Linked DNA regions of Homo sapiens: regions 1, 3, 4 and 5 are each linked to region 2. Evidence: fine-mapped expression QTL. A gene starts in region 2. Each other region holds a variant in brackets. All regions are shown on one strand. Distances are from middle to middle.

The links. PIP is the estimated chance that this variant, and not a neighbour inherited with it, causes the effect. A credible set is the group of variants that fine-mapping cannot tell apart.
Region 1: its variant is the best candidate, but not a certain one, in a credible set for the expression of C10orf143 in testis (GTEx, PIP 0.60).
Region 3: its variant is the best candidate, but not a certain one, in a credible set for the expression of C10orf143 in whole blood (TOPMed, PIP 0.54).
Region 4: its variant is the best candidate, but not a certain one, in a credible set for the expression of C10orf143 in whole blood (INTERVAL, PIP 0.86).
Region 5: its variant is the best candidate, but not a certain one, in a credible set for the expression of C10orf143 in blood mononuclear cells (TOPMed, PIP 0.65).

Annotation. Positions count from the first base shown.
Region 1 is chr10:130,037,196-130,043,459 of GRCh38, reverse strand. It overlaps a transcript of C10orf143 not described here. Among named protein-coding and RNA genes, the nearest start is that of C10orf143, 71 kb to the left of the region's middle. The variant A/T (reference allele first, on the strand shown) is at 3,383.
Region 2 is chr10:130,108,297-130,114,560 of GRCh38, reverse strand. It overlaps C10orf143 (chromosome 10 open reading frame 143), which reads left to right and starts at 3,731. Exons shown (of 4, transcript NM_001355042.2): 1 at 3,731-3,857. The coding sequence starts at 3,789. LOC102724883 (a long non-coding RNA gene) reads right to left here and starts at 3,268. Exons shown (of 3, transcript NR_188169.1): 1 at 2,445-3,268; 2 at 1,179-1,243. It also overlaps the pseudogene CTAGE7P. RefSeq lists enhancers at 2,427-2,556, 3,037-3,366, 4,227-4,406, 4,567-4,676, 5,267-5,526 and a silencer at 3,657-4,036.
Region 3 is chr10:130,062,088-130,068,351 of GRCh38, reverse strand. It overlaps C10orf143 (chromosome 10 open reading frame 143), which reads left to right. Exons shown (of 4, transcript NM_001355042.2): 4 at 3,969-4,456. The coding sequence ends at 3,998. Among named protein-coding and RNA genes, the nearest start is that of C10orf143, 46 kb to the left of the region's middle. The variant G/T (reference allele first, on the strand shown) is at 2,668.
Region 4 is chr10:130,081,368-130,087,631 of GRCh38, reverse strand. All of the region lies in intron 1 of C10orf143 (chromosome 10 open reading frame 143), which reads left to right. Among named protein-coding and RNA genes, the nearest start is that of C10orf143, 26 kb to the left of the region's middle. The variant G/A (reference allele first, on the strand shown) is at 2,382.
Region 5 is chr10:130,069,334-130,075,597 of GRCh38, reverse strand. All of the region lies in intron 3 of C10orf143 (chromosome 10 open reading frame 143), which reads left to right. Among named protein-coding and RNA genes, the nearest start is that of C10orf143, 38 kb to the left of the region's middle. The variant A/G (reference allele first, on the strand shown) is at 4,170.

The DNA.
Region 1 (6,264 bases), 71 kb after region 2:
CTTTTTCCCACCTGCCCGTCTTGGTAATGGGCATCTTGTAAAAATCATACTTTCCAGTGGGTTATGGCTGATATTTAGGAGGACTGTTAGATTTGGTGTGTTTTGTGTCTAGCCAGCTGATAACCTTTCCAATTTGCTTTAATATGTTAACGCGTTCTCTTCAATTTTCCAGGAATACCAGCATGTTTATAAGTAATGATGATCAATTTTTTGCCGTATAACTCCTTGGGAAAACACACTTAGGTTATGAAGCATTCCCTGCGGTAACCTTGAGACTTACGGCAGCATTGTCTCATCTGTTGGTGTTTTAATTATATCAGCTGCTTAACTTTCTTATTTTAAAAAACATATTGTTATGGAAAATTCAAACATACTCAAGCATGCTAGGCCAGTGAGCCTCCACGCCCCTCACCCAGCTGCAGTGAGCATCAGCGTTTTGCAGGCTTGCTTCCGCACTGTCTCCGAGTTTTTTCCTGGAGTGTATTAAGGTAATCCGTAATTCCACCTTGAATACCTCAGTATGTGTCTTTAACAGATAAGGGTATTTTGCCACGACTGATACACACATTTAACAAAATGATCCATAATTCCTTAATAGAGTCTGATATTCAGTTCACTTTCAAGTTTCCTCCAAGCCGTGACGGCCCACCTCCTTTCCAAGCGTTGCTTTCCCTACTTGTGTTTTCAGTTTCCACCTTTCTCACACTGGCTATACGAATATAGGCTCTCCAGACGTTGGCTGAGGTGATGAAAACAGTATGTGGCTTTCGGCAGCTCTGGATCAAAGGACGGAGAGGTGGATCCAAACCTGACAGCAAACAACTGATTTCAGATGCCCATGGTGTTAACAGTAGAGTGATGCCCGCGAGGAGGGGTGGGCCAGAGCTGAGGGAGGTCTCCCATCCGAGGGGCTGAGCTTGCTGCCTTGGGCAGCACAGAAAGGGCTTCCGCGCTCCAACCAGCAAACACGCCAGCTAATTGTCCAGGACTGAGACCGTTTGAGAAAACGATGGTGAAATCGATCACAATGTTTCTTCTGAGGAAGTGAGCCAAAGGAACTTCGTCATATTTATCCATTCACAAACTCTTCTAAGAATGTAAGTTTAATCAAATTAGCAGATTTTCTATTCTTCTAATATGTTTCCTTTGTCAGTTAAGTTAGCTAACAAACGGCGTGAAAGTGGTTAACGTTTGCAGAATGATCGTTCCATGTACGTGATAACTCTATGCACATTTTCTGATTTAGCCTAAACAGTCTAGCCCTGAATCAGAAAGTAATAATCATTCCCTTCTTCCCACATGAAGCCCACAGAGCTCTGCCTGGGGTTGTCTGTGTGTGTATGTATGGGTGTGCACATGAATGTGTAGCTGTGTGTTCATAGTGTGCATGTGTGGGTGTGCACGTGTGTACACAAGTGCATATTTGGGTATGTATGAACGTGTGTGCATGCATAATGTGCATGAGTGTGCATGTGAATGTGTGCTTAGGGTGTGCATGGGCATGTACATATGTGGTTATGTGTACACATAGGGCATATGTAATTGTATGAGTGTGTGCATGTGTGTGTGTGTGTGTTACACGTGTTCATGTGAGAGTATGCACATGGGTGCATGTGTGTACATGCATGTGTGTGTGTGTGTGTGTGCAGAGCTTATTAAAATTATACATAAAAGTCCTACAAGTTTTTTTCACTTAATTTGTCCTGAAAGTGTTTCCTATGGACACATTTCATCAGCACAGATGGAACTCATCATTTTAAAAGCCATGTGTTGCTACATTGAAAAGATGAACAGTAATTCACATAGCTGCTATCCCCCTGACAGACACATAAGTTCCTCTCAAATTTTGGCTACAGCAAAAGTGTTAAAACTCATAAGTTAAAAATGCAAATCGAATTTATGATATATCATTTTACTATCAAGTTGGCAACATGTTTTAAAAATCATAATCGTGCTGGTGAGGATGTTGGAAAATAGGCACTCAGTCACCATTGGTAGCAATGAAAAAAGAGTTTCAATCATTGTGGAAGAAATTTGGCAAAACCTATCACTATTTGAAATGCCCCTGCTTTTTGGTCCATCATGGCCTCCTTGGTACTGACTCTGAGCTTAGATTCATGCCTGAAGCTGCTGTCCCAGCCTTGTCCCCTGACCTTCGGAGGGGACTCAGTAGAGGTCAAGCTGGTGATACCTGTCCACACGCCTAAAAGTTCAGGTTTGTGGAAACCATCTGGACTCAGGAACCAGAGCCTCGGTATTTAGGTGCTCGCTGCTTTGCATTTTATCTCAAACACAGCTTCTCCCTGGCAAGACGGCCGTTCAGGAGCTTGGCCTCCTGAGAAGTAGAACGGATTCAACCCACCTGCCCTTCAGTGGAGGGAAGAGGTGATACCATTAGGATGGCGCAGCCCCTCCCACCCACCTGTCAGGGCCTCCTGGAGGTCTGGGAGTGCCGGTGGCGGGGGCCCTCACTAAGATCCAGTGTCCCTTCCCATGCCGGTTCATGCCCGGGAGTGCTCCCCAAGCAAGGAGGCCAGTGTAGCTTCCTGAAGCCTCATGTCCCTTGGTGCCCCTCACTGAGCCATAGGCCCTGCCACTGTGGTCCCTTCATTCTACCTTTTTTTTTTTTCTTTTTTTGAGACAGAGTTTCACTCTTTCACCCAGGCGGGACTGCAGTGGTGTGATCTCAACTTCTGCCTACCAGGTTCAAACAATTCTGCTGCCCCAGCCTCCTGAGTAGCTGGAATTACAGGCACCCGCCACCAAGCCCGGGTAATTTTTGTATTTTTAGTAGAGACAGGATTTCACCATGTTGGCCAGGTTGGTCTCGAAATCCTGACCTCAGCTGACCTCCACCCACCTCGGCCTCCCCAGGCGTGAGCCAGCACGCCGTCCCATTCTACTCTCTTGAATAAGGCGCTTCACTGTCTGGAGGCTGCAGGGTGCGGTGGAGAGTCTCAGGAGACTTGCTGCTGCCTTATTCTGATGTGCAGGAAGAATGTGACTCAGTACTCAGTGTCTTATGAACCAAATGATCCACTTCCTAAGCCGTTTTGCAAAAGAAGCCTTCGAGTGATCTTCACCTTGGAGAGACCCAGAACTCATACCACGCTTGCACGGCAGGCTAGGGATCAGACTGCTCTGTCCATATACGGGGACAGGCAGATGTCATGATATGGTCCTCGGTGCTCTTTCTGGACTGCTCAGCAACAGGCCAGCTGGGATTGGGGTGCCTTCAGCCCAGCAGGGACTGGGGGCTGGGGGCATGGATCCCAGGCCTACTGATGCTGGCTGCTGAAATTCCCAGCACTCCCTTAGGGAGGGGGCATCCAGGCTCAGATGACTCCCACCCCAGCTCCTCATGTTCCCTGCTGATGAGTGC[A/T]CTCAGCCCATGGAAAGGGAGAATGGCAGGGGACAGGTCCCCTCCTGGGGCATCCTCACTAAGATACCAAGAGAATGGAGCTTCCAGACCTCCCACTGCTGATTTCAGAATTAGCTTCCCCAGGCTGGCCAGTTTCTTATCCCAAACCCTGCACATTGCTGTGTGATTTGCCACGTCCCTAAATGGTTCATGCCCAGTAGCTCTCTGGGGACAGCAAATTGGTAGTCACCCACTGTGCTTTCCTCAGAGTCATCCACAGTACCCTTGGGGAAGGCCATTGCCCCAAGGAGAAGAGCGCATGAGACGTCGGGAGCCTTCCTAGAGGCAGAGGTCAGCCTCCCCACCTGCAGCGTATGAATGAGAAACAGGCCCAGGGCATCTTCTGACTTGCAGGGCATGAGTGTGAATTTTATGGGTCCACTTGGCTGTGCCACAGGATACCCAGATAGCTAGTGAAATATTATTTCTGGGTGTGTCTGTGAGAATGTTTCTGGAAAAGGCCTTGAAATCAGGAGACTGCATGAAACACTCATGAGATCAGTGTGGGCAGGCAGCATCCACCTCATCGAGGGCTGAGTAGAACAGGAAGATGAGGAGGGCACGTTTGCTCTCTCTGCTTGATCTGGGCTGCCCATCTTCTCCTGCCCTCGGATGCTGGTGCTCCTGGTTTTCCAGTCTTCAGACTCACACTGGGACTCACGTGGCGGACTCCCCTGGCTCTCAGGCCTTTGGGCTTGGACTGGAAAGCACCACCGGTGGTCCTCGGCCTCCGGCTTGCAGACAGCAGAGTGTGGGACTTCTCAGCCCCCAAAATCACATGAGCCGACCCCATAAGAAATCATTCTCCATGTATCTGTGTATATCCTGTTGGTTCTCTTTCCCTGGAGACACTGGCCAATACACAGATGGACAGAGTAGCACTGGCTGGGCTAGTGTCACCGTTCCCAGCTGCTGGGGTGACAGAGCAGCACTGGCTGGACTAGTGTCACTGTTCCCAGCTGCTGGGGGACCAACTGTCCTGGTTTGTCTGAGGCTGAGCCTTTCTTGGGATGCAGGACTTTTAGCACCAATACCAGAACATCCTGGGCAAACTGGGAAGAGCGGTGGCTCCACACATTATCAGTCAAGCCCCTCCCTGCGTCCTCCCTGCCCAGTGCAGCACTCCCCTGCCCTGTGGTCAGAGCCTGCTGGCCCATCACTCCCTCCGGCCTTGCTACCGTCTCCGCCTCCTCCAGCTTAGCAGGAAAAAGCATACACAGTCGGTGCTTAATGGTTGTGCTCTGTGCTGCACTGAGGTGGGCTGTAGGCAGGGCCAGCAGATGATAATTGGGAGGGCAGCCCAGTCCCAGGTTCATTAGCCAGGGAGGCTAAGGCCAAGGATGGCCCCAGGCATGGCTCAGCCTGGGGGGTGGGGAAGGGCCTGGGCGGTGTTTGATGCCCACACCTCCGTCTGTCCTGGCAGTCCCTTTACATCCATCATTTAAAACGAGCAAACGCCAATTAATAAAATAATCCCCCGAAACCATTTTCCTCCCGGATTGTGAGCCTATATCAGAGGTAAGCCTGCAGGGAAGTGTTACACAGGCTCATCAAGACCTTAAGTGAGGCTGTGGGGCCCACCCTCATCCCAGGGGCCCCCAAGACAGATGCTCCTGGATGAGATGAAGTGTAAGCCAGGGCCTGCAAGGGAGCCACAGGCTGGGGTGGCCTTGCCTGGACAACGGCCTGTTATTCTCCATTTACTGCATTTCTCTCCCGGTAAACAACATACAACTGAGGACCCACTTCTCATGCACAAATGAGCAGTCCCGAACCCGAAACTTCAGTCAGCGGCTGGCCCTCTCTCTCAGGCCACCTGTCACCTGCTGGCCCAGTTGCTGCAGGGTCCATGCCTCCCTCTGTGCCTGTACCTGCTGGAAGAGGCCGCCGCATGTTACTCCCTGTCAAGAAAGAATTAAAGAAGCATCTTGGGTAGGAAGCAATTGTGGAGGGTGGAAGTTTCTGGCCAGGCAAATAAATTGGATTTAAGTATATTACAGTCATAATCTTTTTCTGCCCCTCTCCAGACGGTCTCTGTACATGGAAAAATGAGAATGTATTCGCAGACAAAGCTTGACCTGAGGGAGACGCCTGCCGGAATCTGGATTTTCAATAACATAAGACAATAAAGCTTAGACTTCTAACCTGCCGCAATATGGGAAAAGTATAAAGAGCTTAGCTGCTAATAAAAGGGAAGGGTCTTCCCCTCATATTTGAAGATCCGGACCCCCCAGAAGGACACTTCATGAAGATCACAGTGGGTTAGCTGGGATCATGCAGACACGAGGCCCCTTGTTGACCGATTGTCTGACAGTTGTCACGTATGGGTCTGATATTAATAAGGCCCGCATTGATTTCCTTGGGGTATTTTTGTCCCTGTGAGTGCACAGCCTCCTGTTGTGGCTCTAGCCTCAGTGGCGCTGAGCTACAGTTGCCCTCAGCAGGATGCACAGGTGGGGCTGCCCTCCCTGGGGTGTGCACACCTTGCCAGTGGCACCTCCCTCGGTGGGTGGCTGGAGGGGAAGAAGGGACATGCTAAGGACAGGGGACAGAGTCAGGGCCACTCCCTTGGAGACCGGGCACCCTGGTCCACCCACAGCAGGCAGGGCTTGTGAACGATGGGCTTGGGAGTGAGCCTTCTCTTGTTTCGCTTGCTCATCCAGTACTTCCTCTAGGATGCAAGTGGGCTGCCGGCAGTGTTACTGGGGTAAGTAACTGGGTGAAGTCAGCCGGAGGAAAGCGGCAGTGCTTAGTTAAAAGTGTTCTTTGACATGTAACATACGGCGGAAGCGGCGGCCCGGCCTTGGTGAATTTCAATGCTAAGAAGCCTTGTTGCTCACCCA
Region 2 (6,264 bases):
TTTCTCCATTTCCTGGGTTGCCTTTTCACTGGATTAATAGTGTCCTTTGATGTACAAAATTTTAAATTTTGATATAGTCCAAATTATTTTTTTCTTTTGTTGACTGTGCTTTTGGTGTCATATGCAAGAATCCAATATCATGAAGTTTTCCCATATTTTCTTTACTTTTTTTTTTTTTTTTTTTTTGAGACGGAGTCTCACTCTGTCACCCAGGCTGGAGTGCAGTGGCGTGGTCTCGGCTTACTGCAACCTCTGCCTCCCAGGTTCCCAGGTTCAAGAGATTCTCCTGCCTCAGCCTCCCGAGTAGCTGGGACTACAGGCACGTGCCGCCACCACCATGCCTGGTTAATTTTTTGTATTTTAGTAGAGACAGGGTTTCACCATGGTGGCAAGGCTGGTCTCCATCTCCTGACCTTGTGATCCACCTGCCTTGGCCTCCCAAAGTGCTGGGATTACAGGCTGGAGCCACTGTGCCTGGCCAATTTTTCTTTCTTTCTTTTTTTTGAGATAGAGTTTTGTTTTGTCGCCTAGGCCTGGAGTGCAGCGGTGTGATCTTGACTCACTGCAACCTGCGCCTCTAGGGTTTAAGCAATTCTCCTGCCTTGGCCTCCCAAAAAGCTGGGATTACAGGCATGCGCCATCATGCCTGGCTAATTTTTGTATTTTTAGCAGAGACAGGGTTTTGCCATGTTGGCCAGCTGGTCTTGAACTCCTGGCCTCAGACAATCCGCCTGTCTTGGCCTTCCAAAGTGCTGGGATTACAGGCATAAGTCACTGTGCCTGACCTCCCATATTTTCTTCTAATAATTAATCTATTTAACATATTAAAATAGTGAGCATTCAAACCATCACTTTATAGATGTCACATATTATTTTTAAAGTTTTTCAAACTTAAGATATTGAGAATTTAAATAAATATACTATGTAAATAATAGGAGAGGTTTAGCATACATCTTGCAGTTAGTACCCAAGTGACTGATGCTTGGTAAATACTGTGCTAAGCTAAACTGCATCCTTCTAAATATACCTATTGCTGTATCTCATTCCTAAGCTAAGCAGTCCCCCCCCCAGTACCCAATGGTTGCCTCATGCATCCATTTAAGAAAGACAGCAGACCAAAACTGGAGTCACTAAATGCTAAGGATTCATGCTACCAAACTGAAACCTGGGTTGCTTACTTGTAAGATCTTCTGAGAAATCAGGAGAGGGATGAAAGCCAAATTACATTACACCAAGATTTCGTCTACACCTCTATAAGGAAAGTAACCTTGAAATGACTGATCTGCTATTTGTTCATTCTTCCTGCTTTCCTCCACTTTTTCCTGCCTGTCAAACTCACCCACTCGGTCCTCATTGGAGCACCTTTCTATCTTGTAGACTGCCTGGTGCATGCAATGCTATTAAAAACCAATCAGATCTTTGAAACTAAATTTGTTGAAATTTTGTTCTTATACACATCTGAAAAGCAGCCATCAGTATAAAGGCCAGCGAATCAAAAGTGGGTAACAAAGCAAGTCATCTAATCTAAACTGCAAGACAAGCATTTTGAGAGGCCTACAACATACCTTATTTTCAATTCTGAAATGCAGAAAGTCCTCCAAATTAGTTTTTCCCCACGCTTGGAGTAAACTCATTTGAACTGATATGAGACTATTTACAACCTTTATTTATTTATTGTATTTATTTTATTTGAGACAGGGTCTCACTCTATTGGCCAGGCTGGAGTGCTGTGGTGTGATCACAGCCAACTCACTGCAGCCTCAACCTTCCAGGCCCAAGCAATCTTCCCACCTCAGCCTTCTGAGTAGCTGGTACTACAGGTGGGCGCCATAGTGCCCGGCTAATTTTGTTATTTTTATTTTGTAGAGACGGGGGTCTCACTGTGTTGCCGAGGCTGGTCTCAAACTCCTGGGTTCAAGCAATCCTCCCGCTTTGGCCTTCCAAAGTACTGGGATTACAAGCATGAGCCACTGTGCCTGGCCCTATTTACAACCTTTATATATCCCACTTAGGGTGAATATTTGTGAATACTCACACATTTCTGCTATAGAAACATTGTTTGACTACGGGGGCATACAATATATCTCACCTTTTTTAAACATTCAAAAAATTCTGAATTTCACAAACACATCTGGCCTGAAAGGTTTTTGATAAGGGACTGTGAATCAGTGGTGGCATAATTAGTCTTAGGAGTACTAACTAATAGGAGAAATGTTACATTTGTTAAGTACTTAGTTTGTGTCCAGCATTGTTCTAAGTATCTTCTAGGTAAATGCCTCATGTAATCCTCACGATCTCTATGCTTTATCATCCTATCCTTTATAAATGAGGAAACTGAGGGAGATTAACTATTTAATTTGCTGAGGATCATGCAGCAAATAGCCCGAAGAGGGATTCATGCGTTTCACCATAATGGTTAAGAACAGGGCTTTGTCAAAGGATACCTTCAACTGCAGCAGAATGATGGACTCAAATCACAGAGACACGACAAAGTGACGGGTAGTCAGCTGTGGGTTGGTTCAGAGGCTCAGGCTGTTCCGGCTCTAGGTGATTTCCTGCTTTCCTAGGGTTCCCACCAGCTGCCCTCATGGTGACAAAAAGGCTGCTGCAGCTCCAGGAAACTTACACTGGGCAAGGACAACAGGAAGAAAACAGCCCCCACCCACCCAACTCCCCTTTTAACTAGAAGATCTTTCCCGAAACTCTGCCTCAACAGACCTCGCTTACTTCTCCCTGGCCCGTACTAGGTCGTGTACCCATCGTTAGCCAATCGCTGGCAACGGATTGGCCCCGTTTTAATTTATCCAAAAAAGGCGCCAGTCTGGGCTGTTTGGAGCAGTCAAGGGAGCTCCGTGCTAAGGCAGGAGGGGCCTGGACATGCGGCTGCAGGAGTCCGGGCCTCGGTGCCCTAAGATGAGGGCTCAGTGGTGCTCAGCACCGCGCCGGGCCAGAGACTGAGCCGCCGCCGGCTGTTGAGGGTTGGTTGGCTGAATCCCCGGCAGGGGCCAGGCGGAGCGAACATCACCGCGGCAACTGCCTCCACAGCACACACTCCCGACAGTGGCTGCGCTTTTCCCCTTCAGCACAGCCCAAAGGCCCCGGCAGCTCAGCACCTGCGACCTCCTAGTGCCCTCCAGCCTACGGAGGAGTAGAAGTCCTTCCGGGGCCTCCCAACCAGCAGCCACCAGCCACCAGCCACAAAAGCCGTGAGCCGCGCGGGGCTGGCCTGAAAGCTCTGCGTCTTCCCACCGCGGCAACAGCAGCTCCCACCCGGAAGCGAGGCAGCCCTGCGGACCACAACTCCCAGAAACACCCGCTGTCTCGCTCAAGCTAATTGACCCGCTGCGCCATCTATTAGCCAACCAGCCACAGGGAGACGGCTCCCCACGAGGCCTAACAACCAATCATAAGACAGAGGAGGCGGGCGCTCCTCCAGCCGATCCACGGGGTGTTGTCAAAAGTTTGGCGGGATCCTGAAAGAATGCTTTCTTTAGAGCCCCACGGCTGCTCCTGTGAAGGGAGAAGCGACAAGCAGAGATATGCAGGGACCTCTCTGCGAAGTAATGACTTGGGGCAGACGGACAACGCCCACAGCATCCCAATAGTCTCAGAAGACTCTGGTCTCTGCTACTCCTGCCTGCGGTCCTCGCCTTGGTGCTCTCGCGCTTCCCGCGGCGTCCCGCCCCTCCCTCTCCTTATTGGCTCCCCAGGGCCTTGTGCGGAAGGGGGCGTGGTGCGCGGGCCTCGGCCAGGCCTGAGATGCCGGGAGGGTTTGACCCTGGGGCTGCATGGACAGCTTAGCGCTCGGCCGCTGGCGACAGCGGAGGGCGGAGGATCTGCAGGTTCCGGGGGACGTGGTGAGCCCCCGGGGCCTGGGCGTTAGGGACGGGAGGGCGGATGGCCCCTGGGCGGGTTCCCACCGCGCCTCGTTTTTGCCGGCGCGGCCCTGCCTGTGAGGAGGCCTGGCCCAAGACACTCGCACGCTCGCGTACGTCCCTGGGAGGGCGTGGCCAGTGATGGGCGTGGCCTGTTAGGGCGGGGTTGTGACGCCGCTCTCCCGGTTTCGCGCCTGCGCGGTCGGGCGCGGAGCTCGGGCACCTTCCTGACCCACACGCTCACTGGGGCTCCAGACCCAGGCTCCCTAAAACATGGGCCGAGACTCATTGCAGGACCTCGGGTGCTTGGTATCCGTGTCATGTCTTCTCCTGCCGTCTACACCTGACTGTTCCTGAGTCTCGTTCACTGAGCGCCTGCCACGTGCCAGGCCCAGGGCTGGGTGTTGGGGGACGAGTACGTGGGGAGCGAACACGCGCAGAAAATTACCCGGCATTGAGCGTGTTAGTGCTTCTTGGGCTGAGTCCATTAACTGATGAGCAGAGGGTAAGATGAGATGGTAATGGGGAGACTTGCACAAGATCCCAGGGTGCGTGGGTAAGTCAGGTATGTGTGAGACTTGAAGGATGACCGGGGGTAGGCAGGATGGGAGGTGACAAAAAACAGTGTTGGAGGAAGGAGCTTAGCGTCTTAGGGGCACTGAAAGAAGTACTGCAGGATTGGAGCTGGAAGACAGAGCTGCTTGGCATTCCTGTATTTTATCTTCCACCTCTGCTTGCAAATTGGCCAGTTCTTACTTAACCTCGTTTATTTCAAAGTTCCTCGCTAGGGGCAGCAGTGAGCAGCCAACATACCGCATATTTGCTTTTTTTTTTCTTCTAGAGCTACACAGGCTTGGTAAGTGCAGGATCCGTCTTCCCAGTTAATACAGGCAGCATTTTTTTAGATGTCTTTACTGCGTAGCGGGAATGACTAGCTTTCTACCCTGCACCATCTCTTTCCTCACTACTCACTGCCTGGCCGTGAAGCCAGTACCACTTAGGTTTCTATCACAGCCGCACCCCTCCTCCAGGTACCAATTGTTATATTACTAGGGTGCAGGTTACCCCAGTAATATAGTAATAATATGGTATAGTAATGTAGTATAGTAATAGTATAGTACAGTAATATAGCAGGTTAGGGTGCTTTTGTAACCAAGAGCCTTCAAAGCACGCTGGCCCTAACAAGATGGAAGTTTGATTCTCCTGCACAGAACAGCATGGACGTGAGCAGTCCAGTGGGGTGGAGCCCAGGGTCACTAAATATAGGCGTAGGGCTGGTGGTACCCAGATCAGGGGATATGCGGGGACCTAAGTTCCTTCCCCTCACACCATCCCCTGGGTGTCACCCTCCTCTGCATAGCCAAGGGTGGCTCACTGCTACTGTGCTACCAGATGGCAGAAAAACAAACAGAAAAGTGACATGATTATGCTGATGTGTTGAGACCTTACTTCACTGCCCTGGAAAATGAAAGGTGTGATCAGGGTGCAGGCAGGGAGGCAAGGCTTGTGGCTACAGTAGTGTGTCAGAGGAGAAGTGGCAGAGGTTTGCACAAGAGAGGGCAGTGGGGTGGTGACACTAGAGAGACGTGACTGTGTAGAGGGAGAGCAGACAGTCTCACTGATGGAGTGGCAGTGGCAGGGTAATGTGAAGAGTGGAGTCCAGGGTGTTGTAGGGGTTGACTTGAGCCCTGCGAGGGCAGTACTGCTGCTCCTTGAGAGAAGAGTGGTGTGGAGGCAATGAAGAGCTCCTGTTAGGCCATGCTGTGTTTTCTGCGACTTTGAGACGTTTAGTGGAGACGTGGCAAATACTGCTAGTGATTGAATGGTTATCATGTGGATTATCTGAATTTCTTTAATCAACTAAAATTTATTTAAGCATAAAGTTACTTTCACATTTGTCTACACCTACAGTAAATACAGTTGTTGGCATAAAGACACAGCCTTTAGAATTTAAAGCCTCCCCACCTGCAAGATTACATACGTAAAACTCCCACTGTTGTTTCTATAATAGTGGATTAATCAAATTAAAATAGTTATACTATCGAATAAAATACAATGGAAATAATTTACTTATAAGATTCATATTTAAATCATCCTTATTTACAAAATACTATCCTAAGAATTATAATTCCATTAAGTTTCAATTTGAGCAAAAGTGTAATCACTTAAGTAACAGCAGTTACTTGAAATGAGATCAGTCAGAATTACTTTTGAAGAGAGCAAAAATATTGCCAGGTATCTTGCTGCGGTTTTGGATGTTCCGTAGCAGGCTCATTTGAAGGCGGAATCAGCCCTGAAGGGAACTCACTTCTACCTTCAGAATGTGGGGGTCGGGGGAAAAATCCAGGTCTTGGGGGAGGGTAAGGAGGAAAACCCCTCGGTGGATAGA
Region 3 (6,264 bases), 46 kb after region 2:
GCGAGAGCCACCGTGCCCGGCCATGACCTTCTTTAGTTCTTTGACCATATTTAAAATGGCTGAGGTGAAGTCTCTGGTAAGTTCATGTCTGGGCTTTGTGTTCTGTTTGCCCTTCCAGGTCAGATCCACTGCCCACCTTTCCTGGCATCTGCACAGGAGGCCAGCCTGCATGGCTTACATCCAGGGGGTGCCGGGGGCACCTGGGCTCTCCCACTTCCCTTTGGGCTCAGCCGCTAGGGGGATTTGGGGCAGGCAACAGGAGGCTGGAGAACGAGGGCAGGGTATGTGGCCATGTCCCCTGGCCAGTGTCACTCAGCAGCATGTGTCATCTCCTCCTTCCAGGTTCTGGTAGCCGCTGCTGCCCTTTATCCCTTGGGTCTGGCCCCTGCACTGTCCCTCGCGGCTCCCAGGACAACTTTGTGACAAATCCTTTTGTAATAACCCCTTTGTGAGGTCTCCTGTTCGCCCATGTATCTGTTTCCTGTTGGGGCTATGACTGGTACAGAAGGGTGCACGCCCACTTTCAAGTGTTGACGCCTCCAAGAAGGAAGGGAGGAAGATGAGGCAAGGGTGTGACAGGTGTCCCTCGGCACAGGGCACAGCAGGTGCTCTAAAGACATTTCATCATACAAAGATGCATGCTGGTAAAGACGGATGATTGTCTTAGAGGTCCAAGCTTTTACTGTAGGCCTTTGTAGAATTCTCTTGAGAAGGGACAGTGTTTTGTGGTAGTAAAGACGAATATGCTGTTAAAGGAAGAAAAAATGACTCCTCTGGCAGATGGTAATGGCAGGAATCGTCAACATCTTTAACCCACAGAGGGCTGCTGTCATCCTGTCACACAGGTACTCGGGGAGAAGCAGAGAGCTAGCCACAGCCAGGGCTCTGCCCATTAAGGAAAAATGGCTTCAGCAAAAAGGGAAGGAGATGTGGGGTGCAGTTCTCTCCTCCCCCAGTCCACAGGGATGACTTGCAGCTAGATGTACCAGAGGTGAGGGCATCAATCTGGGTGTTTCACGTAATGGTCCCAGATGGAGTGAGGTGTGTCCCTGTTGGCCCTGCTGTCCTTCCGGCTCCACAGAGAGGTCATGGAGAGCCCAGCGAGGAAGGCTTCCAAAAAGGAAAGGGGGACGTTTTGAGGGAGTTCATGCGTGGTGGCAAACCCCACAAAGAAGCCGTTGCAGTGAGAGATGAAAGAAGGGCTGAGGCCACACACGTGTGCCCCAAGGGTGTGGAGGAGAAGGCGCTGGGCAGCAGGTGCAACCAGAAGCAGCTGGCCCTGGGCCCTTTTCATTCCAAGGTTAGAAGCAAATAAAAACTCCCTCTTCACAAACATCGTTCTCTTGCTCCGTGGAATTGTGTTTTACCAAAAGTGGAAAAGGGTTTTCCCATTATTGCTGATCAAATCACTTTTCAAGCCTGACCAAACAGGAGGCAAGGCATTTTAATTGTCTGCAGTAAGACTCACAGTCGAGGCACAATGAGCCTGATGCTCCTCGTCAGACCTGCCTCTGGTGGCTGGTGTGGGCCATCTGTGAGTCCCAGAGTCTGATGACTTGAGGTCCCACTGGCCCAGCCCCAGTCTAGATTGGGGTCAGTACGAGGCTTCTCTTTGGGTGTCACTGGGGGCTGCTTGCTTTGAGAGAGACAGAGACAAACTGGGACGTGTCAAGAAGAGAGAGTAGGATGATGCGGGGACTTGAGATCATGCCAGGGCAGAGGTTTAAATGAGCAATTTCGAAAGGTTCCTTTGTGTCTAAGAGAGAGTAGAATGGTGCGGGGGCTTGAGATCACACCGGGGCAAAAGGTCTAAAGAGCAATTTCTAAAGGTTCCTTTGTGTCTAAGATTCTGGGTCTTGGCCAGCTGCGTTGGTTCACACCTATAATCCCAAGACTTTGGGAGGCTAAGGCGAGTGGATCGCCTGAGGCCAGGAGTTCTAGACCAGCCTGGACAACATGATGAAACCCTGTCTCTACCAAAAAAAAAAAAAAAAAAATTAGCCAGGTGTGGCGGCAAGCACCTGCAGTCCCAGCTACTCAGGAGGCTGAGATGAGAGGATCTCTTGAGCCTAGGAGGCTGAGGCTGCAGTGAGCCATCATTGTGACACTGCACTCCAGCCTGGGTGACAGAGCCAGACCCTGTCTCAAAAAAAAAAAAAAAAAAAAAAATCCAGGTCTCAGTCCTCAAATTGATGTGGCTCTTTGTCCCCACGTTTTATCCTTTCTGTCTCAAACATGTCTTCCAGGTATACCCCTCCTTGAACAGAGCAGGGAAGGATGCGTCAGGAATAAGTCACCTCAGTGAATAGCTGTTTTTAAAAAAGAAATCATTGTGTTTTTCAAGTTCTGTGGTTGGTGATGACGAAATGAATTAAACAGCATTTCCCTGCAGTTCCCCTGTCTCTTCCCTAAGAGACGCCTGCTGCCTCCTGGGTCTGCGCACCCCACGGCACCTCCAAGTGAGCCTCCCAGGCTTCCACTGACTCTGCCCCTTCAGTGCACAGCCCAGAGCCGTGATTTGCCAGCTGGGCTCCTGCGTTCAGAGTCTCCCAACAGAACAGGTTCTTGTCCAGAGAAGTTCAGGAAATGCTACATACTTTCCCCTGCCTTTTAGAGACTTGATGTCCATTAGACTGTGAAAGACCTCGAGAATTGCATGAAGAAACT[G/T]GTTTCCAAAATGTCCTTTTGTAAAGGGATACCTGCTACACATGTGATTCTGGGAATATTCTGGGAAGCGCAGGCCTGTTGAGTAAATGCAGCACCTGTATTCACCATGGCATCCAGGGCCCTTCAAATCTCAGTGTTGCTTGACCTCCCAGACAGCTGCTCCCATCCCTGCCATGTGCGCCACAAGCCCCTGCTCCAGCCGCCACAGCTTCTCCGATCCTGGAACAGTCTGACCTTGTACTGTGCTTACTGCTTGAGGTATACCTTCCCACCTCCAAAGATTCTCTTGCTCCTTCGTGGCCCACCCGAGATTCCTGTCTTGTGTGAAGCCTTCTTCAGGCCCCTCACCAGGTAGGGTCACGTGCTGTCTTCCCTGGCTCCTGTAGCATTTCGTTCTGATCACTCGAAGGAGCCATCAGTATCTGACGTCAGTACTCTGCTGTCTGATAATCCCTCCAGGCAAGTTCAGAGTCTCTCCTGTCTGGTCCCTGTGGGTCAGGGCAGCCCCTGCCTTCCAGGAAGCAGGGACATCATCAAGAACTGGACTTCTTTGTTTCCCCACTGCCCAGCCTACCCCACCCTTCCTGGGCTGCAGCCAGCTCAGGAGCCTGTTGCCCTGATGGTGGAGTCCTTTCAGGACAGGGAGGCTGTGCCTGTCTCTGCCTGTGGGCCAGAGTGCCACGCTGCTATGTGCCAGGATATGTGGCCAAGTGTGACAGAGATTCCTAGATGCTGACGAGCCTCTCATTGCACAGTGGTACAGTGTCTGGCCAACTGTCTATCCCCAGCCATCTGGTTCTCCCAGTTACTTCTGCGGGTGAAGGTGAGGAGATGAGAGGCCTGCTCTAGGAAATGGGTTGGGGGCCGGAGGGGCCCTGGTGGGGATTGCCGTGAGCCTCTCTTACTCCCGGATGTCCCTGGTGAGAGGAGCCACTTTTGTGTTGCTTTTGTGCTGAATCCTGATTCAATATTTAGACATTTTTTTAAAAATTTATTTTATGAATATATGAATAGTATTTTCATTCTCTTGCTATTCCTCAAAGTACTATAGGAAAGAAGGGAAGTAACATTTATTGAAAGTCTTCTGTGTACCAGTCACTACTGGAAATGCTTTAAATATCTTAATTATAATGTAATATATATTAATATATCTATAAACAGATACCTCAGGAATTAAGTTATCACTTACAAGTAGTCATTTTAAATGTAGTGCTTTGTGTTGGCAAATGTATATATAGCCAAGGTGTATTAATTTGGCCAAGGTAAATTAATTCCCGCAATGTGCTGTTTTATCTTTGTAGGGACATTTTAGCCATACCAAGAATCATTAGAAGATGCAAGCTGGAAAAAAGAAGGTCCCAGTTTTGGTTTTGAACCCTTCATGTTGCAGCAAATGTGAATCTCCTACAGATGGGTTTGGGGACTTACCTGTTCAAATAGCAGCCCGGTGTCCTCTGTGGGTGGGGGGAGGTTTGTCTGTCCTTTCATTCTAGTAAATCCACCATCCTCTGCACGAGAGCCAGGAGAATCCACATCACTTCAAAAGAGCCCCCAAATCCTTACTACGTACTACAGCCTCCTTTCGAATGTTCCTGGTTGAGAGGGAGATCAATTGCATTATTTACAAGTCAAAAAATTTTGTATCAAACTTCCTATGAGCTTGGGCACTCATGGCCTATGGAGGCCCACCCAGACGCAGCCCCGCCATCATGCTTTTTCGTTGTTTTGTGGATGTACCCAGGGCTATTTACACACTCTTTCATTAAAAGGCTTATTTTTATATTTAAAATGTTCTAATCTTGGAGTGAATTTTACTAAATGCTAGTGTCCAATCTGTTCCCCAACTGAAGTTATCAGAGACAGAATCCCTTTTATATTCAAGTGGAAATTACTCATTTTCTCTTGGGTTTTCAATGTATCGTCTGACTGTGAGGCTGGCATTATTTTCTCTGGGTTTGAAAGCTTCCTGAGATGTCCTGTTTGTAAGCTCCTGTCCGCATCACGTTATCTGCAGGGAATGTGCTCCCTCCAGGGAGTGTCCTCGGCACTGATGTGGGAAGAGCCCCCTCTATAAGTCATCATGGCATTCGGTCATGGGAGAGTTCCATACGGGAAAGATGGAGCAGAGGAAGACAAGGTGTTGAAACCAGTACAGCACCACCTGGGATATGGATGATCCAGAATTACAGGACACGTCTTCATTAAGCCTGGGTAAGATCCCAGAGCTATGACTCGATCAAAAAATGCCAGTTCGTGCCAAACAACCAAAGCCGGGAAAGAGGGAGAAGGTATTGGCGTTTGTAGCCTTACGAAAGATCTTTATGAAGAGCTTTAGTTTGTTCTTCTCTTTTCCAAAATGAGATACACGTCTAATTTTTACGGGAAAAAAAGAAAACTCTTAGATGGACAGCATGTTCTTTTTTGTGTGTAAACTCTTCCTTCTCACCCTCGTTCATGGAGAGAGCAGGTGTCCACCCGGTGTCAGGTGGGTGTTTTGTAGCTGACGTGGCACGCGTCCCTCCAGCTGTTCATACGAAGCTGGCTTTTGTAGAGAACAGTCCCCGGGCATCCTCCTGCCCCAAGGAAAATGCCCCCGCTTCAGAGTCAGACAGACGTGAGTTCCCATCTCATCTCCACCGACCATCTCCACCTGACCTTGATGAGTCCTTAGACTTCTTGGAGCCTCTGGTTCCCATCTGTGTGGTGGGGAGGTTGCCCTTGGGGTTTGCCCTTAGCCCACAGTGTGACTCCTCAGTGTCAGTGCCCTCCCTCCTGGTACACAGCCCCTCCACCCCAAAGCAGGCCTTCGGTTCTGGAAAAGCAAAGCTCACAAAACCTGATGACCCAGGTGACAAGGACGAAAGGGATGAGGTGTAACTGGCCAGAATGTGGGTGTATTAGGGTTCTCTAGAGGGACAGAATAGGATAAGTGTATATGTGAAGGGGAGTTTATTAAGGAGTATTGACTTGCATGATCACAAGGTGAGGTCCCACAATAGGCCGTCTGCAAGCTGAGGAGCAAGGAAGGCAGCCTGAGTCCCAAAACCTCAAAAGTAGAGAAGTCGATAGTGCATCCTTCAGTCTGTGGCTGAAGGCCCAACAGCCCTTGCAAACCACTGGTGTAAGTCCAAGAGTCCAAAAGCTGAAGAACTTGGAGTTCGATGTTCAAGGGCAGGAAGCATCCAGCACGGGAGAAAGAGGAAGCCTGGAAGACTCAGCCAGTCTAGTCTTTCCACATTCTCCTGCTTGCATTATTCTGGCCAAGCTGGCAGCTGATTAGATGGTACCCACCCAGATTGAGGGTGAGTCCGCCTCTCCCAGTCCACTGACTCAACTGTGAATCTCCTTTGGCAACACCCTCACAGACACACCCAGGATCAATACTTGGCATCCTTCAATCAAGTTGACACTTGATATTAACCACCACAGTGGAGAACCAGCAGCTTTATCCAGGTGCTGGATTTTCCAGACTGTGAAGGGAATGGAGGAGCTTGTGACTGGGTACCTAAAAAGGGGGATGGCAACATTTTCTTGGTGTTTTCAGCCATTTTAGTACAGGCCATGAAATAGAAGGCTCAGAAATTCCAGATTTTCCTA
Region 4 (6,264 bases), 27 kb after region 2:
ACCATCACCTCCGGAAAAGGAAGAAGTCCCCCTCAACAAATGGTTGGTCTTGCCTCCTCAGGACAGGCAGCAAGACTTCCTGAGATCTGTGGCAGCTTCGTGTGTTTCTATCATTGAGGCAGCACCATCCCTGTTTGCTATTTTAATTTAGCATCGTTTGAAACAGCGTCTATTTCTCGGCCACGCTCCTGCTTCACCTTTCTCTGATGAGGATGCTGGTCACTTGATCTATTCTAGTTATTGTTATGTAATGGGGTCCTTGTGTATACTTAGGATTTTCATTTCGTTCATATAGTACAAGTGTCTTTTTAGCTTGGCATAAGCCTTCATCTGCCTTTGCGAAGGCTGACAGATCTTCTCGTTCAACGTAAGCAGCCCCAGATGTAAATGCCTCTGTGGCAGTCATTTTTCTTTGGTCCAGGCCCATCCATGACAACTGAACTATTTCCCAAGTAAGTGTATAGATCAGTATCGTATGTGGTCAGCTCTCAATAATCCACAGTAAGTAACAGAAAATATGAATAAATTAATTCACTGTGCTGGCTGAGTGCCACTGAGATGTCATCCTCACATTCCCTACTAGAACCCACACTCTGCTCGCCTTGGTGGCAGAGTATGGCTTGGCTCTCCTTTCTCCTACTACAGGCTGTCGGGACCCTGGCCCTTCAGCCCCCTGCGCCCCTTGAAGAATGTCAGCTTTTCATTGCAGATAATCACAAGTCTGCTGACCTTAATGTGCCAAGGGCCATTCAACCACACAGAAAAGGTGTAGAATATAGTTTCATAAGTGTTGTAAATTTCATCCAGAAAGTACAGGTTCTCATTCATATTCATGCATGCCTGTTTGCTTTCCTTTTGAGTAAGTCCTGTGTTATTGAGAAAAGAGGAAGGGAAATAATATTATTGCTATTAGCCGACTATGGTGTTACTGATGGGGGAAAATTGAAACTTGTAAAATTATGTGGGGAATACTTAATATTTCCACTTTTCCCCTTTAATCCAGGTGATTGAAAGTTGACAGCAAACCAGTTTTAACATAACACACCTCCTTTTGCACTGTAAGGATTGAGCAGATCCTGAATAACCAGAGATTGAAAGCCTTGGTCTTAGTTCTTCAAACTGTCATCCAACTTAGGTGAAGACATAGAAGGCTGCATTATTTGCAAAAGTCCTAAGGATGATTAATACGATTACTGTAATATATGGCAGAATAAGGATTGAATATATTTTGATATGCTACAAATCAAATACATATTCCATGGAAATCAGATTTAACTAGTGTACATAGGAGAGCCTACAGTTAAATTAAAAGAAGAAAAAGAGGAAGACAAAGACGACTTAATAAGCCCCAGGAATGAGAGAGTACGTTTGTGTGGAGAAGCTGAGGGGGTTGCAGGGGAGGTGAGCTCGCATGGACCTGTGTGTGATGTGGTTGCTGGGGCTGTTGACCTAGTGTGGGTTTCTCCTGTGCAAACACAGTGGCAAGTGGTGATTCTACTCTGCTAGTTACATGGCATTGAAAGTATTTTGCGTGGTTTATTTTAAGCGGGATATTGGCAATTTAGAAACACTGGACTAGGGTGTCTAGGATATGAAGAGTCTGAAGAACATCTTTGAAATGGAATAGTGAGAGAGACTAGGGATATTTGGTTGGAGAGAACAAGCCTCCAAAGTGTCTGAGAATGATCATCAAATATCTGAATGTTTATCTCATACACAAGGGGTTTTGTTTATTTTATGTTGCTCAAAGGAGAATAATTAGAAACAGTGGGTTGAGGTTGTGAGAAGGCAATTTGGTTTAGATCAGTATTTCTCTCACATTAGGGATGCAAGATATTTTTTTTTCATTTTAAAAAACTTGTTATTTTGAAATAGTTTTAGACATACAGAAAGGTTGCAAAAACATAGTATAGAGTTCATATACATCCTTCACTTAAGCTTGTTAATGATCTTAGTATAGTTAGCATGCCATGAAATTAATGTTGGTGTAGTACTGTTAACTATAGACCTTATTCCATTTTACCAGTTTTTCCTCTAATATCCTTTTTCTGTTGCAAGATCTAACCCAGGATCCCACATTGCATTTAGTTATTGTGTTTCCTTCCTCTCTTCCAATCTGTGACACTTTGACAGTCTTTTAGGACCTCGACACTTAGTGATTATTGGTTAGTTATTTTGTTGTCCCACATTTTCTTATGATTAGAGTCAGGGTGCGCATTTTTGGCATGAGTACTGCAGAAGTGATGTTGTGCCATCTTGGTACGTTGTACGGAGGAGGGTTCATGGTATTGTGTCCCATTACTGCTGTTGTTAACCTTGTCACTTGATTACGATGGTTTTATCCACGGTAAAGTTACTATTTTTCTCTTTACAATTAATAC[G/A]AATCTTGGGGAAGATAGTTTGAGGCTGTGCAAACATCCAGTTTCTCCTTAAACTTTTGCCTCCTAATTTTAGCATCTATTATTAGATCTTGCCTGCAATAATTTTTACTGTGGTATTTACTTAATGTATTTCCTTCTTTCCTTTTGCATTTGTTAATTAGAATTCAACTGTAAGGAAGTCCTTTCCCTTTTCAGCTATTTATTTACTCAATTATTTTTGATATGGGTAGACTAATAGGCATTTACTTTATTCTGTGGATTATCCAGTGCTGTTTTTTATTTATTTTATTGCTTAAATCATTCCAGCTTTGGCCAACAGGAAGTCCTTCAGGTGTATGCCTTTGTCTTTTTGACATGCCCTCATTTTACAAGAACTTTCTAAGTTTTTGGCCTATGAAGTGTTTGAGGCTCATCTTGTATTTTCCCTACTCCTTCCCTGAATCAGCTGCTTCCCATGGAGTCCAGATTCCTTTTAAGGGAAAATGGTATTTCGAAACCAATTTCTAGGTGATAAGTGTAATCTTGCTACTAGGATGCCACTGTCCTTAGTGGACACAGCTAGGATATATATATGTATGTGTGTGTGTGTGTGTGTGTGTATCACCTGCACACACAGTAACTCACACATACATATCTTTATATATTTCTATATCTCTGTCTGGATATGTATTAAAAATTCTAATGCAACACCACTGGGTTCATTGTAGCCTCTCCCTTTTCTGTATTTGTAGCTTATTTCTTAAACAGTGAGAAACTTTGCTCTTGTTATTTACAGTGTATTTACTTATTTATCCAATGCCAATAAAGTAATTTCAAAAATTGCTAACCCTGTAATAAACACATTTACTAGCTAGAGTACAGGATTTCTATACAGTGCTTTTTGTCGTCTTTATTTAGCGTTTGAGTTTCTAGTCAAAATAGTTTTTTTTTTCTTTTTGAGATGGAGTCTTGCTCTGTTGCACAGGTTGGAGTGCAGTGGTGCAATCTTGGCTCACTGCAACCTCCACCTCCCGTGTTCAAGTGATTCTCCTGCCTCAGCCTCCCAAGTAGCTGGGACTACAGGTGCCTGCCACCACGCCTGGCTAATTTTTTTTTTGTATTTTTAGTAGAGATGGGGTTTTACCATATTGGCCAGGCTAGTCTCAAATTCCTGACCTTGTGATCTGCCCACCTTGGCCTCCCAAAGTGCTGGGATTGCAGGCATGAGCCACCATGCCTGGCCCAAAATAGTATTTTTAAAAGTTATTTGGGGTAGTTCTTTTCAGTGTGGCTATGTTACTTATTTGTAATGTAGTTAGGTTCATTATTTTTGTATTCCACTTGGGTTCCTCTCCCCCTATGTCTTGGTTTACTTACATTTTTCCCTCACTTTTTGGCATGTGAAATGTTACTCTGGTGCTTTAATGCAGAGCTCTACACTCCCTCTTCATTTCTGTTCCCATGCCACCCTGTTCCCCAGCCCTTTCCTATCCACTCTCTGTAGGAAAGCAGTCTCTTTCATTTCTCAAATATCCTTCCTGTATTTCTTTTGCAGAAATGAGCAGATAGTGTCCATTTTCTTATAACCCCTTCTTTCTTACACAAAGGATAGCATATTATAGATACTCTTTTGCACTTTGTTGTTTTCACTTAACAATGTATTCTGGAAATCACTCTAGACCAGTTCATGGAAATCTTCCTCTTCCTTTTCTCAGTTGCCTAGTACTTCGTTGCTTGGATGTACCATAGTTTATCCAACCACTCTCCAGTGTAGGGGCATTTAGGTTGTTTCCAATATATTGCACTATTGAATAACTGTGCAAATGTGCTTTTTTCCCATATCGTTGGAGGTGTATGTTTTGGGTAGATTCTAGAGTTGTAATTGCTGGGTTAAAAAATGTGCATATAGCTTTGTATTGCCAAATTTCCCTGCAAGAATTTGCATTCTCACCAGCAAAGCAGGAGGTGCCTGTTTTCCTGCAGCCTCACCAACAGGGGCTACACCACATTCTACAATTTTTGCCATTCTGATGATAAATGATATCTTGATGTTGACTTAATTTGTATTTCTTTAAATATGAGTGCATTTGAACACTTTTTTTCATGTTTGAGGACCATTTTAATAGCTTTTTTAAATTGTTTATGTCTTTTCTCCATTTATCTTTCAGGTTTTTGGTCCTTTTTTGCTCAGCTTTTGTAACAGTTTCTTATATTCAGGTTATTCACCCTTTTTCTGTGGTATATATTGCAAACATTTTTCTTCCCCTTTTATCAGTTATCTTTTGATGTTGTTTAGGATTTTTTTGTTTGTTTGGCCTTACAGAAGTTTTTATTTTCATATAGTCAAACTTGTCAATCTTGATTTTATTGCCTCTGTATTTTGAATCATAGTTAGAAAATCTTTCCCTACACCAAGATTAGAGAATTCACTTGTATTTTCTCCTAGGAATTGCATAGTTCTTTATAATTAGATCTTTTGCATTCAGGTCCCTAATGCATCTGGTTTGGTTTTGTATGTGGTTGTATTAGTCTGTTTTCACGCTGCTGATAAAGACATACTGGAGACTGGGTAATTTATAAAGAAAAAGAAGTTTAATGGACTCAAAGTTCTGTGTGCCTGGGGAGGCCTCACAATCATTGCAGAAGGTGAATGGCACGTCTTACGTGGCAGCAGGCATGAGAGAGAATGAGAACCAAGCAAAAGGGAAGCCCCTTATAAAACATCAGATCTCGTGAGACTTATTCACTAACACGAGGACCGTGTAGGGGAACCGCCCCCATGATTCAATTATCCCCCACTGGGTCCCTCCCACAACATGTGGGAATTATAGGAGCTACAATTCAAGATGAGATTGGTAGGGACACAGCCAAACCATGTCATGGTGTGAGGTGCAGATCTAAATTTCTTTTCTCCAAATGGCTCCAAGTTGTCCTGGGACCGTATATTAAAAAGTCCATCCTGCTGGGCACAGTGGCTCATACCTATAATCCCAGCACTTTGGGAAGCCAAGAAGGGAGGATTGCTTGAGGCCAGGAGTGTGAGACCAGCCTGGTCAACATAGTGAGACCTCATCTCTAAAAAAAAAAAGAAGATCATATATGTATGTATAAAAAGTCCATCCTTATCACAGTGATTTGAAGCCAAACTTTCATATATATTTTGATTTATATCTGGACTTTTAATGCTACCACACTGGTCTGTTTGTCTCCTTGTGTGCCACTGTGTTTAATTATGGAGTGTCTATGGTTTGTTTTCGTGTCCAGGAGTTGTTTTATTTTTTCCTTCAGGGTTTTCCTGGCTCTTCTTGCATATTTGTTTTTCATTGTGACCGTTAGTATCAACTAGTATAACTCTATAAAATAGTTTACTGGGATTTTTACTGGGATTATATTGAATTTACAAATTAATTTTTAGGGAGAACTGTCATCTTTATAATGTTGGGTTATCCTATCCAAGAGTTGAATTTTTCTCTGATTACTGCTTTAAATGTATTTCATGGATTCTGATATGTAGTGTTTTCATTGTAATTTTTTTTTAAATTCTTTCCTCTCAGTTGGTGACCTAAGAAATAATAAGACTCTTAAATTTCCAGGTGGAAGTGCCTTTCTGTTTTTTTGTTTTTGTTAATAATTGATAGTTTATTGCATTATAATCAGAAAGTATTGGCTACATTTCTACCCTATAGAAATCATTGTTTTTTCCTTTAATGCCATCAGTTGTAACTGTGCTGTGAGTTCTTGAGAGGAATGTGTATACTCTATTATCAGGGTACAGAGTTCAATATATATGTCCATAAGGTCAACCTTGGTTGATTATGTTGTTTAAATCTATCTCCTTACTTGTTTTCTGTGTACTTGCTCTGCCTTGTACTGAGAATGGTGTATGAAACCTCCTGTTATTAGT
Region 5 (6,264 bases), 39 kb after region 2:
CGTTTGGCTTCTCATCTCTTCCATCATTTGTGTAGCCAAATCTTGTTACAGTCCCTCTGTTTGAAATATACCTAGATTGGTTTCTGTTTTCTTACCAGCGCTAATCAGCTAATGAATGGACAGATTCTCCTGGGGAGGAAAGTTGCTGTTTCTAACAGAGGTCTCCGGGCCTGTATTGTCCCCTGCAAGGGCTCAGTCAGTAGTCCGCAAGCTTGGCACTCCAGAGTGCTGGCAGGGCTGATCCTGGTGATAAGCCACATGAGTCCCGAGAGCCTGGACATGAAAGTTAAAAATACAGTCAGGCCCTTCAATGTTGCCCATCGCTAATGCTCCTTCGCTGCCTTTTATCTGTGGTTATTGGTTTTTATTACTCAAACGGGTAGGGAGTTACCACTGAAAAGCCAGCATGCAAAACATGGTGTTTCCTGGTGCCATGGAGTCTCCGCTCCCCACGTTGATTCTGGATACCAGCATTGTCATTAGCCTTATCTTTTTTTCTTTTTTTTTTCATTGAGGGCAAATAGCAAAGGAGCAGTCTTAATAAGCCTCCGTATTATTCACTTTTTGACATTGAAATCTATTGCCTGACAACATTTGTGTGTGTGGTATATATGGTGTGTGTGCATGTGTGTGTCTGTGTACATATGTAGTGTGTGTGCATGTCTGTGTGTGTGGAGTCAGCCAACGTAGGAGTAGAAATTGAGGGCAGGGGAAGGGAGGTGTTTGGTCCAAACCTATTGTTTTGGTTCAGTTTTCCCTTGTAGGGACACCAGGAGGAGCCAAAGTATGATTATTCTGATTCTAAATGGATGCATTTTTTCTTTGTATTTCTTTTTATCTCCAAATGGGTTACCTTTAAAGTATTTCTGTTTATTTTGTTTACATATTTGTACATTATTGGTCATTGCTTTCTACACCTACATCATCTATAAATACTGCACTAGAACAGGAAGCCTTGGAACCCAGTGATCTCTGCCCTCCTCTGGTGCCTGCAGTGACGGCTGAGAACACTGCCTGTGCTTGCTAGGGCGGGTCCGAGTGTCAAGCTGGGGACGGGACCAAAGATGGAAATGTAACGTTCTGATATCGATGAACAGAGATCGATGCGCAGTGCCCTGCTCTTTGTGTCCTGTCTCGGCCACAGCTGATAGCAAGCATCCTTGTCAGTTCTTTCTTCTTCTGTCCTGAGAGAAGAAAACACAATCATGGAGGGATCAACGGGAACTTCATTGATCATTCTGTAAGAATCAAGTTGTGCTCCATGCATTTCTACCCCCAGGTTTGTCAAGGATCCTGGAGTTCATTGGTCTAACCCTGTCAATTTACAGATAAGGAAAGTGAGGTCCCCAGGGGCTAAGCCATTGGACTGCCATGCACCGTGGTTGATGGGGAGGCAGGGGCCTGAGCACTCTGCTTGGAGCCCCCTCTGCTTTCTGCTCTTTTTGGCTGATCAGTGTGTTTGCAGTCAGCATGCCGGCATCACTCCCCAAGACTGGCGGCCCAGCGTCAGGCTCGAACACCCTATGAGAACTGTGGCAGTGACAGTGCGGGTTTTTGTGGACTTCATCCCCGGACACAGTGAGAAGCTCTTGGCTAAGACACAGGGCTGATTTACTCACACTGTGAGGGAATAAGCTGGGAATGGAAGAGTCTGGCTGTGTCAGTATAGCCAAATACGAATCCCAGAATAGATGGGTATGAATAGACCACTGACAAAATCTTCAGATTTAGCATCTAGCAGTAGCTGACAGTGAGTACTTTCTCTGGAATATGGATATTGAAAAACTACCTTTAAAAAAATTTTTAACTGTTATTTAGGTCATTTTCTGGCACTGAAGGAGCTGAGGGGCTTCAGATGACTAGAAGAAAAAAGAAACAAGTTCAATTTAGACTTCCTACAAACATGTTAGATAAAACCAACACAGATGTGTCCCCCTCCTGCTGCAGAGACTCAAGGTAGACTCTGATAAAAAAAAAACACACAGCTGATCACGTAATAGGCGAAGAGAGAAAACAAAAGTAGTGCCGTTGGGACCAACACACTCTTTAGTGGCCGTTCCTGGGTCTGGGTACTTGTTGGGTTTGGTCCTAGATTGCACCCAGGGCTGGGAACTGGAATGCTCACGTCCAGAGATAGATGTGGTTTTGGCCTAACAAAGGTGTGGGAGCTAGAATTTGGATCCTTGCATAAAGTTTAGAGCCTGAAGATCTGATTGTACCCTAAAAGGGGACTGGAAATTACAATACCAGGCCATGCATGGGTATGGGCTCCAAGTTTATTTTATCTCAGTCATACAGGAACCAAAAGTAGAAGCCCTGCCATAAAAACAGTTGCAGCCCATTGAAGTCCTGAAGGCCTTGGGTGGCAGCAGGTGCAGAACTGTCCTGTAGGCATGCCTCCACCACCCAGTGTGTAGGAGATTTGGAGATAAAACAACCCCCACGGAGGATAAGATCACACTAGAAAAATAAGCACATAAACAAATCTACCACCATGGTGAGAAGAGGGGTCAAGAAATAAACAGTAGAATCAAAGTCTCTAACAATCTGAAATAATTGAAGAACCTGAAGGTGGATATAAAGTACGGGCACAACTCATTTTATTGCACTTCACTTTATTGTGCTTTGAAGGTACTGTGGTTTTTACACATTGAAGATTTGTGGCAACCTTGCATTGAACAAGTCTGTTTGGTGCCATTGTCCCAAAAGCATATCCTCATCTCATGCTTCTGTGTCAGCATTTTAAAACAACAAAGTATTTTTAAATTAAGGTGTGTACATATTTTTAGGCAGAATGTTGTTGCACACTTAATAGACTACAAGCATATTGTAAACAAAACTTGTATATGCACTGAGAAACCAAAAAATTTGTGTGACTCACTTTATTGCAGTGTTCTGCAACCAAGCCTGCCATGTCTCTGAAGTATCCTGTAGTTATTTTATAAAATGATTAAAGAAGAAATAGAGCCATAGTAAGAAAGGAAGACAGTTTGAAAAAAAATTGGAAGGTTTTTTTAAAAAGAACTAAAAGTGCATGATATGTTCATTGAAGTTTTTTTAAAAAGTCATCAGATTAGACACAGTTAAAGACAGAATTAGTGAATTAGAAGATAGAGCTGGATAAATCCCCCAAGCACAGCAAGAGAGATAAAAAGATGGATAGTATAAAAGTGTAATTAGGAGTCATAGAGGAAAGAATGAGAATGCCCATTAGGAAATCCAGAAGGAAGGACTTTAGAGAATGTTTGAGTAGAATAGTTGAAAAGATAATGGCTGAGAATTTTCCAGAATTGAAGAAAGGCATATGTGGTCAAACAATTTTGAAGTAGAATAACAAGCAAGGGAAATTATCCATCAGATATCAAGATATATTACAAAGCTGTGACCATTAAGACAATGTGTTAATTGGCCTAAGTGTAGACTAACCAATGAAATAAAATTGAGATCTTTAAACATGCATATATGGCAGTTTGAAGGCATTATAAATGAGATTTACATACACCTATAAATTGTGCCAGGGCAATTAGTTATCCATATATGAGGAAAGATAAAATTAGATCTCTGCCTCACACAAAATCAATTCTAGGAGGTGGGAGGTGGGGGTGGGAGTTAATAAGAACCTATATATGAAAGAAAAACCTTTAACATTGTTAGTAGAAAATATAGAATATGACGGCCAGGCGCGGTGGCTCATGCCTATAATCCCAGCACTTTGGGAGGCCAAGGTGGGCAGATCACCTGAGGTTGGGAGTTCAAGACCAGCCTGACCAACATGGAGAAACTGCATCTCTACTGCAAATAAAAAATTAGCCAGGCATGGTGCATGCCTGTAGTCCCAGCTACTCGGGAGGCTGAGGCAGGAGAATCTCTTGAATCCAGGAGGCAGAGGTTGCGGTGAGCCGAGATTGTGCCATTGCACTCCAGCCTGGGCAACAAGAGTGAAACTGTGTCTCAAAAAAAAAATATAGAATATAACTGTATATATTAAGACATGCTACATATCAGAATTCTTTCATCATTGTCTAAGAAAAGCTTTTTGCAGGAAAGATATTTACAATGCACAAAATATAAAGATGGGTTTCTTGAATAAATATGCAAATCAGTCCAGTAAATAAATGGGCAAAGTATATGACCTGGCAGTTCAGAGAAGAGGAAACCCAAAATAGCCA[A/G]TAAATATAAATAGGTGTTCAACCTTACTAGTAATTTAAGGGCTTGCAAATTAAACCATCAAATTAGCAAAAATAAAAATGGTGCTATAACTGTGAGTGAGGTAGAGTGAAAGGATGTGTTCACTTCCTCAGAAGCCATGTACATGGGTAAAGCTTATGGTGGGCATTTCTGGTAAGCTAGAAGATATGGTCCTAGGTGTATACCCTAGTAGATGCCCAAGAAAGTGTATACAAAATATTTGTTGTATTTGGGAGGCTGAGGCAGGCAGATCACTTAAGGTCAGGAGTTTGAGACCAGCCTGGCCAATATGGTGAAACCTCATCTCTACTAAAAATACAAAAAACATTAGCTAGGCATGGTGGCGCATGCCTGTAGTCCCAGCTACTCAGGAGGCTGAGGCAAGAGAATCACTTGAGCCTGTGAGGTGGAAGTTGCAGTGAGCCAAGATCCCACCACTGCACTCCAGCCTGGGTGACGGAGCAAGACTCTGTCTCAAAACAAAACAAAACAAAATATTTGTTGTTGCACTGTTAGAGTAAGAAAAGCCAGAAACAACCTAAATGTTCATCAATAGAATGAATAAATGAATTGCAATAGATTTACTCAATGAAGTGTTACAGAGAGCAGTGAAAATGGATCAAATCAAATGGAGAAAAAAGGAAATTACAGAAGGATCTACGTAGAATGATACTATCTAGATACAATTTTAAGCATGGGAAACATTGATATATATCTACTAAAGGAATAAAAACATTTATGAGAGTGGTAAACAACTTCAAAATAAGGGCGTTATTTCTACTGAGTGGAAGGGCTCAGGGTGCAGTGTTTTGGTGATATCTAATGTTTTATCCCCTAAGTTTTGTGAGTCTTGGGTGTGATGTATCCACACATAGATAGGTCATCATGACACTGGAGGACATCAAAGGCAGAGAAACGTGTAGAGCTGCTAGAGAGAAATGACTGGCTAAGCATGAAGGGATGATAATTTGACAACAGATCTCTCATTAGTAGCAATAGATGCCAGAAGAGCTTGGAATGCATCTTTGAGCTGCTAAGGGGACTGCACTGTGACGTGCATGTGGACAGGCTGCACCAGGTCCGGGGGTGCGATGGCCACTGCAGTGGGGTTCCTCTCCCCACCCCAGAAAATTCAGTTACCAAAACTGACTCAAGAACAGAGAACAGAATCAGATCAGTAACAATGGAAGGATCTGGGAAGGTTATCAAAAAGCTCCCATCACAGGGATTTTACAGATTTTAAAAACCCTGTATGAAAGAACACATGGATGATTTAACATTAGAAAAATGACTGCATTGTCTGATAAAAGGGAAAATAGAGATCATCTGTTACATGCAGCAACAGCATACAGTCAGATGCGAATCCCATTCATGATATATATTTAAAAACTCCACAAACCAGAAATAGAAGGCTTTCTTCTGGTAAAAATTAAGGACGTGATACTTAGTGGAAGCATCTGTGTTGAAGAGAAAAGGACGAGGATGCTATTAGCACTTCTGCTCGGTATGCTAGGGCTCCTAGCTGGCATAATGTGATAAGAAAAAAAAAAAGAAACAATGGACATAAGAATTGGAAAGAGAAAAATCTAAATTGTTATTTCCAGATGGTATAATTATCTACATAGAATATCCAAGGCTGACCACAGTGACTCATGCTTATAATCCCAGCACTTTGGGAGGCTGAGACAGGAGGATTGCCTGAGCCCAGTAGTTGGAGGCTGCAGTGAGCTATGATTATGCCACTGTACTCCATCCCAGGCAGCAGGGTGAGACCCCATCTCTTAAAAAAAAAATTTTCCAGAAAATCTGCAGATAGACTAGTAGAACTAATATCCAGCAAGATTGTTGAATATAAGATGAACACACAAAAATAGATAGACTCTTACTTACTGGTAACAGTCAATTAGAAGAACAAAACTCCATTCACATGGTTGCAGCGTGAGGATGTAAGTTACTATCTAGTGTTCTGTATTTCATCAGCATTTCTTGTAAGGCAAGTCTTCTAGCGACAGATTTTCTGTTTTTGTTTATCTGGGGATGTCTTAATTTCTCTATCATTATAATTTCAATGTCGTT